4 separate regions of the Homo sapiens genome follow, and regions 1, 2 and 3 are each reported to be linked to region 4. The links are microRNA targets in miRTarBase. Many come from high-throughput screens and were not tested one by one. Region 4 holds a microRNA gene; each other region holds the end of a gene's coding sequence.
What was found. Region 4 holds the annotated microRNA hsa-miR-603 (CACACACUGCAAUUACUUUUGC, at 1,814-1,835, opposite strand). A microRNA usually pairs through its seed, bases 2 to 8, with sites in the 3' UTR of a target mRNA and lowers its output. Matches are read on the target gene's strand: a 7mer-m8 pairs with bases 2 to 8, a 7mer-A1 pairs with bases 2 to 7 and ends in A, and an 8mer does both.

Region 1: the mRNA of MESD is a reported target of hsa-miR-603. Seed matches in the 3' UTR shown: 7mer-A1 at 3,261-3,267 and 7mer-A1 at 1,214-1,220.
Region 2: the mRNA of UGT2B4 is a reported target of hsa-miR-603. The part of its 3' UTR that is shown has no 7-base or 8-base seed match.
Region 3: miRTarBase lists NUS1 as a target of hsa-miR-603. Seed matches in the 3' UTR shown: 7mer-m8 at 900-906 and 7mer-A1 at 1,855-1,861.

What each region holds. Positions count from the first base shown.
Region 1 is chr15:80,975,452-80,979,514 of GRCh38, forward strand. MESD (mesoderm development LRP chaperone) reads right to left here. Exons shown (of 3, transcript NM_015154.3): 3 at 301-4,026. The coding sequence ends at 3,768. Among named protein-coding and RNA genes, the nearest start is that of MESD, 12 kb to the right of the region's middle. RefSeq lists silencers at 2,117-2,411, 3,277-3,571.
Region 2 is chr4:69,476,858-69,480,920 of GRCh38, forward strand. It overlaps UGT2B4 (UDP glucuronosyltransferase family 2 member B4), which reads right to left. Exons shown (of 6, transcript NM_021139.3): 6 at 3,308-4,053. The coding sequence ends at 3,777. Among named protein-coding and RNA genes, the nearest start is that of UGT2B4, 17 kb to the right of the region's middle.
Region 3 is chr6:117,706,271-117,710,333 of GRCh38, forward strand. NUS1 (NUS1 dehydrodolichyl diphosphate synthase subunit) reads left to right here. Exons shown (of 5, transcript NM_138459.5): 5 at 655-4,063. The coding sequence ends at 745. Among named protein-coding and RNA genes, the nearest start is that of NUS1, 33 kb to the left of the region's middle.
Region 4 is chr10:24,273,511-24,277,579 of GRCh38, reverse strand. It overlaps MIR603 (microRNA 603), which reads right to left and starts at 1,895; the gene lies at 1,799-1,895. All of the region lies in intron 2 of KIAA1217, which reads right to left.

The DNA of each region.
Region 1 (4,063 bases), not on the chromosome of region 4:
CTGCATGCTCTTGTCCAAGCATAAAGGCGGACACTGTGGGTGCAGAAGGTGGATATTATGTATCTTGTCAGTATACAAACACTATTAAACAATAATCAGGGACACAGGAAAAAGTTTGTGAGTTCCTTTCCCTTGTTCAGTGGTTAATGCATACTAAGTTGGTTTAATTTAAAAAAAAAAAAGAGGTTTAACAGTATAAGGGAAACCACCAGAAGTACAAAAGCCACAGTATCACCATCAAAACCAGAAAGCCTGAGGATGAAGAAGGAAAGATGTGTATATCTGATACAGGTTTCATAATTGATAGTCAAAAGATATCATCCAAATTTATTAGATCACTAGATATTAAAACAAACAAGACAAAAAGGAAGACAAATTCATTAAAAACAGGACATTTCTCCCAGCTATTTGGGAGGCTGTGGTGGGAAGATCAATTGAGCCGGTAGGTAGAGACTTCAGTGAGCCGTGATCCTACTGCACTCTAGTGAGGGCAACAGAGTGAGACCCTGTCTCAAAAACAAAAACAAATGACATTTCTCTTAAAAAATTTTTGTTTCGTTTTTTTGAGACAGAGTCTCATCCCGTCATCCAGGCTGGAGTGCAGTGGCCTGATCTTGGCTCACTGCAACCTCCGCCTCCCGGGTTCAAGCCATTCTCCTGCCTCAGCCACCTGAGTAGCTGGGATTACAGGCCCGCACCACCACACTCGGCTAATTTTTAGTAGAGACAGGGCTTCACCATGTTGGCCAGGCTGGTCTCAAACTCCTGACCTCAACTGATCCACCCACCTCGGCCTCCCAAAGTACTGGGATTACAGGCGTGAGCCACTGTACCCAGCCCAACATTTCTTTTGCTCATGAATCTGCAGACTGGGCAGACTGTTTCTCAGCTCAGCTTATGTTGGCTCCCCTCAGTGTCAACTAGGATTGCTTGAAGGCTGGGGCTGGAAATGTTTAAATCTTATCCACATGTCTGTGCCTGGGCTGGGAAGACTCATGCAGCTGGGGTTGGAGCAGGTGGGCCTCCTGGGTATCCCTCTCTCTACGTGAAACACTGTACGCAGCCTCTCCAGTATGGTGGCTTCAGGGTAGCCAATTAAGATATGGTTTTACAATCTATTAAACTGGTAAATGTGATGCCCAAGGCTGGCAAGGATAGATCTATTGTTGGCAAGGGTAAGCTGACTAAACCACTTGGGAGGGCAATTTGGCAATACACACCAAAATGTTAAATTCCGTTTGCTCTAATAATTCTACTGCTAGGAATTTACCTTTCAGATATAAACAAAAGTGTACCGAAATATTTTGTATGAAAATGTCCACTGCAGCACTGAATATACCAGCAAAAAATCTGAACACTCAAGTGTCCATCAGCAGGGACTATGCAGTGAAACAGTGGTTCAAACCTCACCATCACCCTGCTGATGTAGGACACCTTCAGCTATGGCCTGCACTACTGAAGCACCTCCCAGCTCACGGCTCACACCTGCTGGGGTCCTCTTCTGATCACTTCTCCTGTGCAACCAGTGCAACCTGGACTGCCTTTCACACCCACCCCATCACAATTAAGATCCACCAGGGCGTCCCAAACTCCTACCAAACTCCATGTGCTACGCTCCTCCAACCTGGGCCTGCACTGGGCCCCAGCCTCCCCGCTGGCCTTCCTGCTGCCTCTCCCTCTGCCACTTCTAGCCACAGGGTCTTAGCTCAGACTGTTTCCTCTGCCTGCCTTACTCTATTTCTCCTCTCCTCCTCTTGCCCTCAGAGAAGGCCTCTGGTTTTCTTAACCTGGTCAGGGAAGATTCTACCTCCCCCTACCCTGCCCCTTTCATACTTCTAACAGCTGCCATTTTACTTTGTACATTACTGACATTTGTCTTCCCCCACCGAATCATTGAGTTTTACGATAGCAGAGGCTGTATCTACACCGTCCTGGCACCTTGTAGTACCTAGTACATAACAGACACACAGAAACTACTGGGTGAAGTGGGGGCACACTGCACAGGAAACAATGAGACAGATCTGCACATTCTGACATGGGAAGGCTCCTAAGTGGAAACAGAAGGTACAGGGCGGAGTGAAAGCTTTGCTACCTTTTGCTTAATTAAAGCAATTATCTCATCAAAACAGCTGCTTTATACTGGGCCATTATGGCTATGCAGGACAGTAACCCCATCAAACTGCCCTGAGTACAACAGAAAAAGCCCACAGACAGGGCTTGGTTCAGCCACGGCATGATTCAGGGACTCGTTTATGCCACCAGGGTGTGGCGCTCTCTCCCCACTGTCAGACAGTTCTCTTCTCCAAGGGCGGGGCCTACAACAGCTCCCGCTCCAGGTTCAAGATGCAGGAGGAACAAGAAAAGCCTCTTTCAGGGCCTAGTACCCTAGTACGGTAGATCACACAGGCCTCACCCTGGAGAGGGCATGGCCTGGAGGGTGGGGGGACTGCAGGGCAAATGTCCCATCCAAAGCAGAGAACTGAGAATGCAGAGGGTGTGGTTCTTTCGAGGGAAATGTGAGCAGCTACCAAATTAAGGGGAAACAGATGCTGTGAGGCCAAAACAAACATACATCACCATAAGTACATTTACATAAGTAAATGTACTTTTTTTTGGTGGATGGGCAGGGAGGGGGATGTGGGGGCACAAATTGTTAACAGCAGCTTCCACTGGGACAAGCTACCACCGGCGGCAAGAGAGGGATACACTTTTCACTTTGTACCATTCTTTAACACTGACATTTTCTAACCATGTAATGTGCTACTTTTAATTTATTAAAATCACAATTGAGGGTTTTTCCCAAAGAATTTTAGTTCTTAGAAATGACATCTGTATATAAATGTTCTAACTCTTATTCACAGTAGGCTCTAACATGAACGGCAAAATCAGACATCAACAGTAGCACATCATGTTACTCTATACGAAAGCACAGATTTAGGCACTTTATCAAAGAAAAATGTTTAGAAACAAATGAGGTTATTGAGTCGTCTGTCACACTCTGCAAAGGACTCTGATTCCCTACTTAAATCCTTTAAAACTGTCACATTAAATGGAACATATAACCCCTCGACACCAGCAGTACTCTTTCCTAAATAAGGAAACAAAACAGAACCCCTAACTTTACAGACCACATAAAACCTGACAGACACCAAGAGTTCTCTTACTGATGAGTAAGATTCAAGTCAAAGAAATTCAAAACTACTTAGGATTTCAAGTGACATATTTTCTATTCTCCGCATTTCCTGCATAGATTTTGGATTTACACACCCTGGCTTCCTGGCTACAGACATCTGAGTTCACAAAGCATATTTTACCTTTAACATAATGAAAATGATGTATATGGCATGAAGAGTTTACTCAATTAAGTCAAGAGTTTTAAAGTCTTCTCTGATCAGAATTTGCTATCTGATCAGAGCAGGCCACCCAATCACAGCAGGTGCTTGGAGGGGAGTGGAATCTCAGTAGAGTTGATGACTCACCAAGTGTAAATGGGAAAAAGCAACACAGTCACATTTCCATGTAAGGAGATTTTATAGTAAACATGAATTTGTCAGTGTCCAGTATTAATTAGAAAACATCTGTCTTCTTACTTGAAGCCTATTAAGCAGTAATTCTTTGACCACAAACTGGTCATGTGGCAGACCCTTTCTAGAAGACACTAGAATGTCATCCGGTGTGCAGTTGCCTGAGACCACTCCCACCCCAGGAGCTGGGCAAAGAGCTCTCCACGTCCACCTGTCCCCCCACAGCGCGTCACTGCTGCCCCATCACAGGTCTTCTCTTTTATTCCCAGCTCGATTTTCTTCCTTGGAAGACCGAGATTTCAGATCTCCTTCCTTCTTTTTTTTGCCCTTGTCTTGCTTTGTTTTATTTTTCTCTTTGCTTCCTCCTCCTTTGCCGGGGTACACCTGGCCCTCCAGAGTTACATCAGCACACCTGTCTTGACCGACCAAAAAGTCCTTGATCTCCCAGGCGTAGCTCCCATCGCGAAGCATGAAGATAGCACGGTCTGATCCCACAATGAACCTTGGGCAGAGAGATGCAATCAGTCAGCCAGCACGTA
Region 2 (4,063 bases), not on the chromosome of region 4:
CTCAGAGATTTGAATCAAGGTGACCTGAATTCAGAGTGCCAGCTCTTAACCACCATGTTATGCTGACTCTTCTATTTGAGGTTTTTATAGCAATAATTTATTGGCATTATTTCTATTTAATTGAGCATCAGTAACTTTATCATCTTTGATATGTTATTTGCCATTTTTACTTTGAATTACCTATTCATACTTTCATCAACTTTTTATTAGATTTGTTTGTCTTTTTTGGTTGTTGTTTTGTAGTTGTCACTAAACAATGGAAACCAATCTATTGTTACATGTGTTGTAGGATAGGTTTAATGTAAATAAGCAGAGGTTTATAAGCATGATAAAACAACATTATTAACCTTTGGCACTATATTAGTTCTGTGTTTCTTTATATATGTATCAGTTCCTGGATGATTTGTATGAAATATTCTGTTATAAACTTTTCCTATAATTTCTCTAGCATCAATGTTATACTGTGTGTGTGTGTATATATATATATATATAGTCATGATTTATATATACATATATAAATATATATACATATGTAGTGAAATATATATATATAATATTTATATTTAAATCATTCCTTAGACTGGAGAATACTTGTGTGATAATTAGTAAATAGTAAGGCTTCTTACCAGCAAAGACAACTAAGTTTTTGTCCATCTGGACCACTTTTATCATAAAGTGCTTCCCTGATGTGTATATTAAAGAAGGTTTATGGCTTGATTTAGCTATTTTCCACAAAATTTATAAACTCATTGTATACTTTGTACACTTTTTGTCATCCTAAAAGATTTCATGCTTCTATTTTATATTTAGAGAAGAAATGGATCAAAAGACCCTGTGGAAAAAGAGAAAAATTAGAGATGATTATTTGAAGTATAGTATGTGGAATATAATTATTATTTCAAACTGTCTTCAATAAACACATTGAATTTTACCACCTATCTATTAGGTAACTAAATGATGCAGTGTCTTATTTTAAAAAAATGGACATGTATATGTACATGTATGTTTAGCAAGATTAAAAATACACTTAATCCCTTCATAATGAAATTCCTATATTATTACAACCAAAAATTAAGAACTTAACATTTGTCATTAAAGGTGAAAAATGAGAATAGAACCCACAAGAAATTTAGAATTTTTTTTTGGTTCTGTGAATAAAGATGATGGTATTTTAATGGAAATTACATTGAATTTATAGATTGCTTTTGGTAGTATGGTCTTTTTCACAATATTTATTCAAGCCACAAATGAACACAGGATGTGTTTCCATTTGTTTGCATCATCTATGATTTATTTCAGAAGTGTTTTGTGGTCTTCTTTGTGGAGAACTTTCACCTTCTTGGTTAAGTATATTTGTAAGTATTTATTTTATTATTATTATTATTATTGCAGATGCTTTAATAGGGGTTGAGGTTTTTATTTGATTCTCAGCTTTGATGTCCACATAGCCCAAGTAAGACTAAGCAAAAAAACAAACAACAACAACAAAAAAAACACACATCTGGAAGTGTCACATTACCTGACTTCAAACTATACTACAAGGCTATAGTTAACAAAACAGCATGGTACTGGTATAAAAACAGGCATGTAGACCAATGAAACAGAATAGAGAATTCAGAAATAAAACTAAATACTTATAGCCAACTAGTCTTTGACAAAGCAAACAAAAACATAAAATGGGGAAAGGAAAACCTATTCAACAAATGGTGCTGGGATAATTGGCAAGCCACATGTAGAAGAATGAAATTGGATACTCATCTCTCACCTTATACAAAGATCAACTCAAGATGAATCAAATAATTAAATCTAAGACCTGGAAGTATAAAAATTGTAGAAGATAGCATCATAAAAACTGTTCTAGACATTTGTTTAGGCAAAGACTTCATGACCAAGAACCCAAAAGCAAAGGCAACCAAAACAAAGTTAAATAGATGGAACTCAATTACACTAAACAGCTTCTGAACAGCGAAAGAGATAATCAGCAAAGTAAACAGATAACTCACAGAGTTAGAGAAAATCTTCACAAACTACACATCCCACAAAAGACTAATATCCACAATCTACAAAGTGCTGAAACAAATCAGCAAGACAAAAACAAATAATCCCTCAAAATGTGACTTAAGGACATGAATAGACAATTTACAAAAGAAGATATACAAATGGTGAATGGCCATAGTTTAAAAATCCAAAAATAATAGATGTTGGCATGGTAGTAATAAGGGAACACATTTACACTGCTGGTGGGAATGCAAGCTAGTACAACCACTATGGCAAACAATATGGATATCCCTTAAATAACTAAAAGTAGAACTGCCATTTGATCCAGCAATTCCACTGCTGGACATCTATCTAGAGGAAAATAAGTCATTATATGAAAAAGACCCATATACACACATGTTTATAGCAGCACAATTCACAATTGCAAAACTGTGGAACCAGCCTAGATTCCCATCAGTCAATGGGTGGATAAAGAAAATGTGAGATATATATATATATATATGTGTGTGTGTGTGTGTGTGTGTGTGTGTGTGTTTGTATACACATACATATATAATTATATATATATACACATACATATATAATTATATATATCTAATATATATTATATATAAATATCACATTTACTTTAGCCACTAGTTGGGGAATATATATATATACACACACATATATTATATATATATATATACACTACTCAGCCATCAAAATGGACAAAATAAACCTGGATGGAGTTGGAGACCATTATTCTAAGTGAAGTAATTCAGAAATATAAAACCAAACAATGTATGTTCTCACTTATAAGGGGGACCTAAGCTATTAGGACATAGAGGCATAAGAATGATATAATGGACTCTTGGAACTCAGAGGGAAGGGTAGGAGGGATGTGAGGGATAAAACAGTACACACTGGGTACAGTGTATACTTCTTGAGTAATGAGTGCACCAAAATCTGAAAAATCACCACTAAAGAGCTTATCCATGTAACCAAAAACCAGTTGTCACCCAAAAGCTATTGAAATACCTAAAAAACAAAGAATAAAAAAAGATGAATATTTTCAAATGAACAGAAAAATAGAATTGGCTCAAAAAACCAAACGCATTGTAAAATTAGTTCATTTTGTAGTAGAAACCAGGTAGGAGTTGCTATATTTCTAATTCCACATACTTTTCACTGGGAAATGACTTAAGCTCTAAAATGGTAAGCATTTTTATCATACCTTTTAGGAAAAAAAATGACGTTGAAGCACGATGCACAATAAAAGCCAAGCAGCACTAATCATCTCAAAATATCAAGAGGAAGAGACTTTCTATACAATTTAATTATTTATTAGCTTCCTCAACAACAGTTAAAACAACACAATCCTGCATGAAATGGATCCAAAGTATGCTGAGTATTTGCAAAACAGTACTGATACTGTCAGTGGACTTCTTAATGTTCTTGTTTCCATGTACAATGTGTGACATGTAGTTAAGCTTAGTAAATTTTTTTTCATGTAACCTGTGAATTGGAACAATAAATTTCAATATAAGCTCAATACATTTCAATATAACCTCATATGGCTTTATATCATTTTTGTTTTCCCTAATGTTTTCCTCCTTGACATGAAATATTTCTAATGGTTAAACAGGTACTAAAACAAATTTTGACTTGACAAGGTAAGTTTTGAAAGATGTTTTGTCACAAGAAGAAAGGAATCTCTTGTATCACAACGTCTTCTTGTTGTAATAAACTAAAGGAGTTCATTTATTGGGTTTCCCAGCTTCCAGCCTCAGACGTAATTAATCTCTTTTCCCCTTCTTTCCTGTTCTAACAAACTTCCAGACACAAAACAGACATTTTGTGATGATGAATATCACAGTTGCCACACAGGCCAGCAGGAACCCAGTCACATCCAAAGAGTGGTACTGGAACCAGGTGAGGTCGTGGGCTGCAACCCGAAGGTGCTTGGCTCCTTTATGGCGCATGACAAATTCAATCCAGAAGACTGCTCGATCAAGGGGCTTCACTGGTTGATCATGATGAATTCTTGATAATTTCATAGCATTCTCTTTATATCTAAACGATA
Region 3 (4,063 bases), not on the chromosome of region 4:
TTCTAGGTTGCTCACAACATGGCTACAATATTTCATCATGTTTGGATGCTGTGTGGCTCTGCCCAACATTAAGCATGGCTTTCCTAAACTAAGTAATATTGGCTTTACTCTGACCAAGGAGAAATTCTTTAATGGATTTAAATGAGATCCTTTATACATAGATCTCTAGCTTTGCATTAATCTGAGCTTACGCTTTAACAAGTTATGAATCTCTCATTACTAGTTGCTTTTCTTGTGGAAAAAGAGGCATATTAATTTTTTAGTTGATGATGACATTGTGTGTCCTTGTCATCTCATTGTCCACAATGAGCTGAACAATCTTAGTAGAATTGTTTGGCATATTCTGCTTATAATTTACCCTCAGAGCAGAGGGAATAGCTATCTTCAATGAACACTCGTCAATAAACAGTGAGTGCCACTACCCCTCGGTGCCTCAGAGGCTCTCTGCTATTTCCCAGTCAGTTCTGTCAGGGCCCCACCCTTTCAGTCTACATATTATGATTAAGACATTTTCCGTGCCTGTCATGGTGCTGTCTGGTGGAGGATAATTTGGTGTATTCTATTCTTAACTTCTTTTTGGTCCTTATCTTCTGGTTCCCCCCTACATTACAGTGTATATCTAATTGCTTTTCTCCCCCCGTGTTTTCTTTTCAGCTCTTTGCCTTCCCACCTAAACATCAGTTATGAGGACTTTTTCTCTGCCCTTCGTCAATATGCAGCCTGTGAACAGCGTCTGGGAAAGTAGTGGTCATTGGTTGCATAATTTGATTTGAGGCTTGTGGAGGAAAGGAACCAAGTGACTCTGATGTTTACAAAGCACCTATGAAACCCTGTACACACCTAGTTCATAATCCTCATAATTTATCAACAAACACAAAAAAGTGTCTTACTTGAGAGTGAGTGTGTGTGTGTGCGTGTGCACGTGCACACATGTGCACGTTTGTATGTATGGAAATAAACTTATAAATGGGGACGTATTGGAGAAGGAAATACATAGACCTACAACTTTGAGCAAATAGCAGTGATGTTTTAGGAACTGAAATGTCACACTTAAAGTCTTCAGCCCAGCTACTTCCCTATTTTTGTGGGGAGAAGAGGGCCTGATTAGAACTGTTCTGGTTGTGTTTGGCGGGAGGGGAATAATTTTTGTTCAGTCCTTCTTAGTGACCAAACTTTAATTTTTAAGAATAATATATTGACTTACTGAACTGAAGCATTCTGAGTTGAAAGGAGCTCCAGAGGAGTGGAGTTCTGTGTTGCTCACATGTTAAAATCTTGCTCACCTTCAGAGCAGAGGGAATACCTATCTTCAGATATCCGTCCATTTTCATCTCTTAATTGTAGTCAAAAGTATGACTTGAGAGTGTTGCTCTGGTATTCTGGGTTCTGAAGTCTGGTATTCTGGTATTCTGGGTTCAAAAGTATGACTTGAGAGTGTTGCTCTGGTATTCTGAGAGTTGCTCTGTATTCTGGGTTCTGAAGATTATTTGAAAAATAACTCCTACTACATTGAAATGCAGACTTAAAAATTTAAACATTGGATTAGGCAGTCAAAAAAACCAAGCAAGCATAAAAGGTCAATAAGTTGTAATCTTGATAGTAAAGGTGGAAAACTTATTATAAATGGAAAGAAAGTTTTATTTCCTTTTTTGTTTGATGGGCAGTATGCCATATTATACCCAAAGTTCTTTTAAAAAATATTTCCATCAACCATTTTTATTTAAAATAAACATTTGAGGGAAGTTACCAAGGCAGCTTTTTTCCTCAAAAGTAACCTGTTCCTCTTTGGAATAGCACATTTTAGGGGCATGGTTAATACCTGAGATTTTTACTCAGTAAATCCTGATGGTTACTGTGTGTAAAATATCTTTAAGTAGGATTGAAGGCCTCTGTGGGGGAATAAAATATTACCAAAGTCTATAAAAATAAATTTTACATGTTCTCTTTTATGACAGAGAGCAGCACTGGTTCTGTTATTTTTAAAATGAATAATTGATTTCTTGATAGGTGTTTAATATTTCTTCCCTCACTGCTGATTCTTAGATAGAAACCATTCTTTATATTTGATAGACTGCTTTCAGAAAACCCTTATCAACAAGTGTACAATACTTATCTAAAACTATACATTTAGAATGGAGCAGTTTAATACTAGATCTCAGAAGTTTTGAAAAATAGCAAAGAAGACTGGATTTGGAAAGCATGGTCTACAATTGGTTGTTAAATTCTGAAGCTATGAAGAATAAATGTTTCAACTTTGGATTATGAAACCCCATTTATGATTTTTTAAATACACTTGAAATAAAAATGATTAAACTAAATTTTGGTCCAGTGACATTACTTTGCACTGCATAATCCATTATACGTTGTACGACTTTTTTTTTTTGTTTTAATTTATTACTGAGAGTTTTGTGTGAAGCTACAGCATATCTAACCAGAGAATTTCTGATTCCTTATACTGTGATTATATTATATTGAGGCATTTGTAGTGCAGCTGAAGACTGAATTTATGCCTTTTGTAAACATGATAGGTATAAATGTCTTATAAACATTCTGGAGTATGTATAGCTTTAATGAATGAAATTTAATGGACCTGATTAAAATGAAGGGATTTAATCGTTGTTAAAGTTAAGTTAGTCAAATAAATTACCTACTGGAATATAGCCCAAGCCAGTAAAGGTTTAATATTTGCATTTTCGTGCTTTTATTTTCTCCTTCCATTCATAAGTATATACTTGAAAGTACATCTGTAGCCTATGATTTGAGTCTCTTGAAGTTCTAGGAAGAGGCAAACTACAAACTACTAGGATTCTGATTTCAGATGTAGTCATTCCAGAACCTTCTCTTTATGAGTTCACCTGCTAGTACAATCTCCACAACTTGAATGGCATTGGTTGTTCTGTAATTCCTGCCAAAAGCATCACAAGTTGTACATCATCAAGGCTCCCTTTGCACTCCCAAGAAGAACTGGTAATTTTAAACAAAAGTATGTGTCTTTATTTGTATTGGAAAATACTGTCTTTAAATTGTTTCTTGTTGACACTCCCCACAATGGAAAAATTACCGAATTAAACCTGTTTTATGGATGGCAGCTTGGAGCATAGCAAGAAGTTGGAGGATTTGAATTCCATTCCCAGTTCTCATTGTGTTTTGTTTCTTAAAACTATAATAATCGGTTACTGTTATAAAGTTTAAAAGGTGGTTTTAATGTGAATAGCAAATTCTGGTATATCGTGACTAACGCTTAAGAATGCCTGTCTTTGAGAGGAAGGTGTTATAATATTAATGAACAGTGCCAAATACACTGTGCATATCTGCAATTTAATCTTTGAATGTATGTTACTGGATTAGCTCCCTCCTCCTGTGTGATGGTACCATGCATAGAGTCAATCAAATCCTTGTGATGTTTTGTATGGACTTTGACAATATGTAAATAATGTGTAAAGCCAGTTTTTATGATTAAGGAATCAAATTTATTGAATTTTATTATTGAAAGTTGAAACTTAACATGTATGAACAAAAACCAATAAAAGAATATACTCTTTTCATTGACTATAGTATTATGTGAATGCTACATTTGTTCTGAACACTTAGGGGCTGCAAAAATGTAATAAGAAATGCATATGACTAGATAGCAATAGTGTTTTTTTTAGATGGTATGCTCTTGATTGAAATATATTCTCACTTTTACCAGGTTAAACATTTGGAATCTTATAATGTTACTTGCTTTTTGATAGATAATAGTGAAATAAATTCAGCTTTGCCATTGCTGGAGTTGTCAAAATTCCACAGTAATTAAAATTTGAATTTTTACCGAATATGAAATTTCCAAATTAAAAACGTATATGTGTACTCTTTTAAAAAGGAATTTGATAGTTCTTGTCAAATGAGAAAATTTAAAGGTAAGAGTTATGGTTTGTCTTATGCTGCATAGACTATTCACCTCCTAACTTGAAGGTCTAATCATAAGACAATTGTTTTTTTGTGCATAGTTTTCATCTAAAATTAAGTTTACCAAAGGCAAATAACTGCTTACTAGGAACTTCCTTTAGCAAAAATTACTATA
Region 4 (4,069 bases):
ATGGGGAAAACCGCCCCCATGATTCAATTACCTCCCACCAGGTTCCTCCCACAACATGTGGGGATTATGGGAACTACAATTCAAGATGAGAAGTGGGTGGGTACACAGCCAAACTATATCATCTGCATAGCAGGTGGCCTTGTCTCCCCATTCCTGGGCTCCCCCAGGGCAACCTGTCCCCCATCCCACTCACGAGGCTTCCCTCTAGGAAGCCGCTAAGAAGAGACCTGCCACCCACCTGCTTGCTCCACTTTGAGTGGGAACCACACCAGGGTCAACCTCAGAAACATCTGAAAAGTTGGAAGTAAATTCAGCAGTCTAGCAAAAGCAGTCTTCTGCAACTGAGGAATCCAGGTTGAGCGCTGCCATGACCTGTATTTGAAAAGCTGCCACCTTCCAATCAGGCCAGAGTTAAAGAGCAATTTGAAAAGAGCAAGAATTTCCAAGCTATAAAACTAGGGACATGATTCTAAGAGGATAAAACATTTTAAGATTGGTTTAAAAGCTTTTGAAAAATTTAAGGCCAGGCATGGCAGCTCACATCTATAATCATAGAGCTTTGGGAGGCCGAGGTGGGAGGATTGCTTGAGGTCAGGAATTTGACACCAGCTTGGGCAACACGGGGAGACCCCATCTCTACGATTTTTATTTTTTTTTTAATTAGCTGGACTTGGCTGGGTGTGGTGGCTCATGCCTGTAATCCCAGCACTTTGAGAGGCTGAGGCGGACGGATCACAAGGTCAGGAGTTCCAGACCAGCCTGGCCAATATGGTGAAACCCTGTCTCTACTAAAAATACAAAAATTAGCTGGGCGTAGTAGCACATGCTTGTAGTCCCAGCTACTCAGGAGGCTGAGGCAGGACAATCACTTGAACTTGAGAGACAGAGGTTGCTGTGAGCCGAGATCGCGCCACTGCACTACGGCCTCGGTGACAAAGTGAGATTCCATCTCAGAAAAAAAAAAAAAAAAAGCTGGACTTGATGGCATGTGCCAGTAGTTCCAGCTACTAGGGAGGCTGAGGTGGGAGCATCACTTGAGTCCAGGACTTCAAGGTTACAGGGGCTATGATTGTGCCACTGCACTCCAGCCTGGGTGACAAAGCGAGACCCTGTCTCTTAAAAATTTTTTGTTTTTAAATTCAAACCCAGTTTTCCTCAGGACTCTTATTAACAGCTATCTAAGGAATAGGAAGGGATGCCCTCAAACCGGGCAGAACGAGATGGAATTCTAAGTCATTTTGTCTTTTGCATTTCTGAAAAGACTTTCATTTTTCAAAGGACATCAAAACTGAAATGCCTTATAAATCCCTTTGTGTTTCTGCGTTCTGTTCAATGGCATCAATAAGATGGATGATCAGCAAATGGCATCAAACTCCATTTGTATTCTTATTAGAATAATAACACGTAAAATGATATGAAATGAAACAGCAGATTCCAATGACCTTGTAGCCCAATTCAATTACTATTTCACTAAATAACGACAAAACTGACAGTCCTCAAGCTGCTGAATTTATGAATTAAATTCAACTTCTCTTCTACATTCTGAGCAGGACTGAGTGGAAAAAGAAATGGTCAGTGAGGACTGGGGAGGAGTTTCCTTCTCTTTGCTATTTAATGCAACATCGCCAAGCCCACTGGAGGGAGGGGTATGGAAAGACAGTTTAAAAAGGAATATCAGGACCAGAAGGGAGAACTGATGGCCAGGGCCCTTGCTATAGTTTGCTCCTGCAGATGAGACACTGCTTTGGAAAATTTTATCATTAACCAAACTGCACTGATGCTAAAAGTCAATAAAGCCAAGTATTAAGTTGGAGCAAAAGTAATTGCAGTGTGTGCCATTACTTTTAAATGGGAAGCACTGCAATTACTTTTGCACCAAACCAACAGCATCAATCTTGCCTGCATCTTAAGCAAAGGCTTAATGAGAAAAAAAACATACTTGAGACTACTAAAGCATTATACAGTCAGTCCTCATTACTAGCAGATTCTGTATTTGTAAATATGCCCATCACCTAAAATCTGTTTGTGACCCTCAAATTAATACTCCCAAATGTTTGCAGTCATCATAGACATGGCAGGACAGTGGACAACTGGAGTTTCCCAACAAGCACGTTCCCAGGTGGCGTCTAACTAAACAACACTCTGCTTTTTTGTTTCAGTTTTCATACTGTAAGGAAGCACCCTTTCCACAGTCTTTTTAGTGCCACAAGTTTCGCATTTTTGTGTCTTTTTGTGTCTGTGTGTGCACCTGCATGCGTGTATGTGTGTGTGAGTGACTTCACTATTTAAAATGGTCCAAGCCAGGTGCAGTGGCTCATGCCTGAAATCCCAGCACTTTGGGAGGCTAAGGCAAGAGAATTGCTTTGTGACAGGAGTTCAAGACCAGCCTGGAATATACTAGTCATGTTCATTGGGGAATTAAGACCTCAAAAACATAGCCAGACCCTGCCTCTACAAAAAAATAAAATTAAAAAATTAGCTGGGCATGGTGGCGTGTGCCTGTAGTCCCAGATATTTGGGAGGCTGAGGTGGGAAGATCACTTGAGCCCAGGAGTTTGAGGCTCCAGTGAGTTGTGATTGTGTCACTGCACTCCAGCCTGGTCAAGAGGGCGAGACCCGGCATCTACAAATTTTTTCTTTAAATAAGAAAAGAGAATAAATTTTAAAAATAAGAAATAAAATGAAATGGCCCTTAAGTATGGTGTGGAAGTACTATTTGGCATTCCTAGGCTCAAGAAGGCTGTGATACACCTTACACAAAAAATAAGTGCATTAGATAAGCTTAGTTCAATGCTAATGAATCAATAATATATATTTTAAAAGGTGTCTTCAAACAAAAACACAGGTAAAATAAGGATTTTTGTTGATTGGTTGATAAAAAGGTAACCAAAGACTCACAGGAACCTAACCCTGTATTTCCCCTAGGAAATTCAGTATTAACTAATAAATTCAGGACTCACTAATGCAGTATTTAGGGCAAGTTTATAGAACATCAATACTGTGAATAACAAGAATTGACTGTATTTTCAAACTGCAGTAAAAATGCCATAAGTATGTAAAATAGGACTTGTAGGAAGACAACAAAGTATATTTAGATGTAGCAGGTTCATCTTTTTTACTTTTTTTGCAGATGTGAGAACTTGACAATTTCTAACCACTGGACTTAGAATGGAGAACACAGCCAATCTGGGTGACAGAGCAATATTCCGTCTCAAAAAAAAAAAAAAATTAGCTGGACTTGGTGGCATGCACCAGTAGTTCTAGTTACTTGGGAGGCTGAGGTGGCTGGTCATGAACTCCTGACCTCAAGTCTCCCAAAATGCTGGGATTATAGGTGTGAGCCATTGTGCCTGGCCAGCAATGGCAATATTTTCTTACTACCAACTCTCAGAAAACATACATTATTCTCCATAATTATCCAATAAATTTGGACCCATCTGAAAATAAGCATCAGTCACTTTTCAGTTTATACATGTATGCTATTAGTCATTACTCTGGTAATATGTGAAATGTAAATCATTGCCTTATTACTTACTGGATATGGGCTGTTTTTTGGTTGAGGTATGCGTCTAATTTATTGGTACTACATTAGAAAATGCCCTACACCAAATATCTGCTCTGATTGGACTAAGATCCTACATTTTTATATTTGGGAATATTGCTCAACTTGAGAAAGGCAAGATGTCCCAATCCCTGCAACAGTAACTTGGACTTTTTTTTTTTTTTTGAGACAGAGTCTTGTTCTGTCGCCCAGGCTAGAACACAGTGGCACGATCTCGGCTCACTGCAACCTCCATCTCGTGTGCTCAGGCGATTCTCCAGCCTCAAGCCTCCCGAGTAGCTGTGATTACAGGCATGTGCCACCACACCCGGCTGATATTTGCATTTTTAGTAGAGACAGGGTTTCACTATGTTGGCCAGGCTGGTCTCGAACTCCTGACCTCAGGTGATCCACCCACCTTGGCCTCCCAAAGTGCTTGGATTACAGGCATGAGCCATGGCGTCCAGCCAATAACTTGGACTTCTAATTAAAGATGTGACGTGGGCCAGTTATGCATAGAGGTAAGCC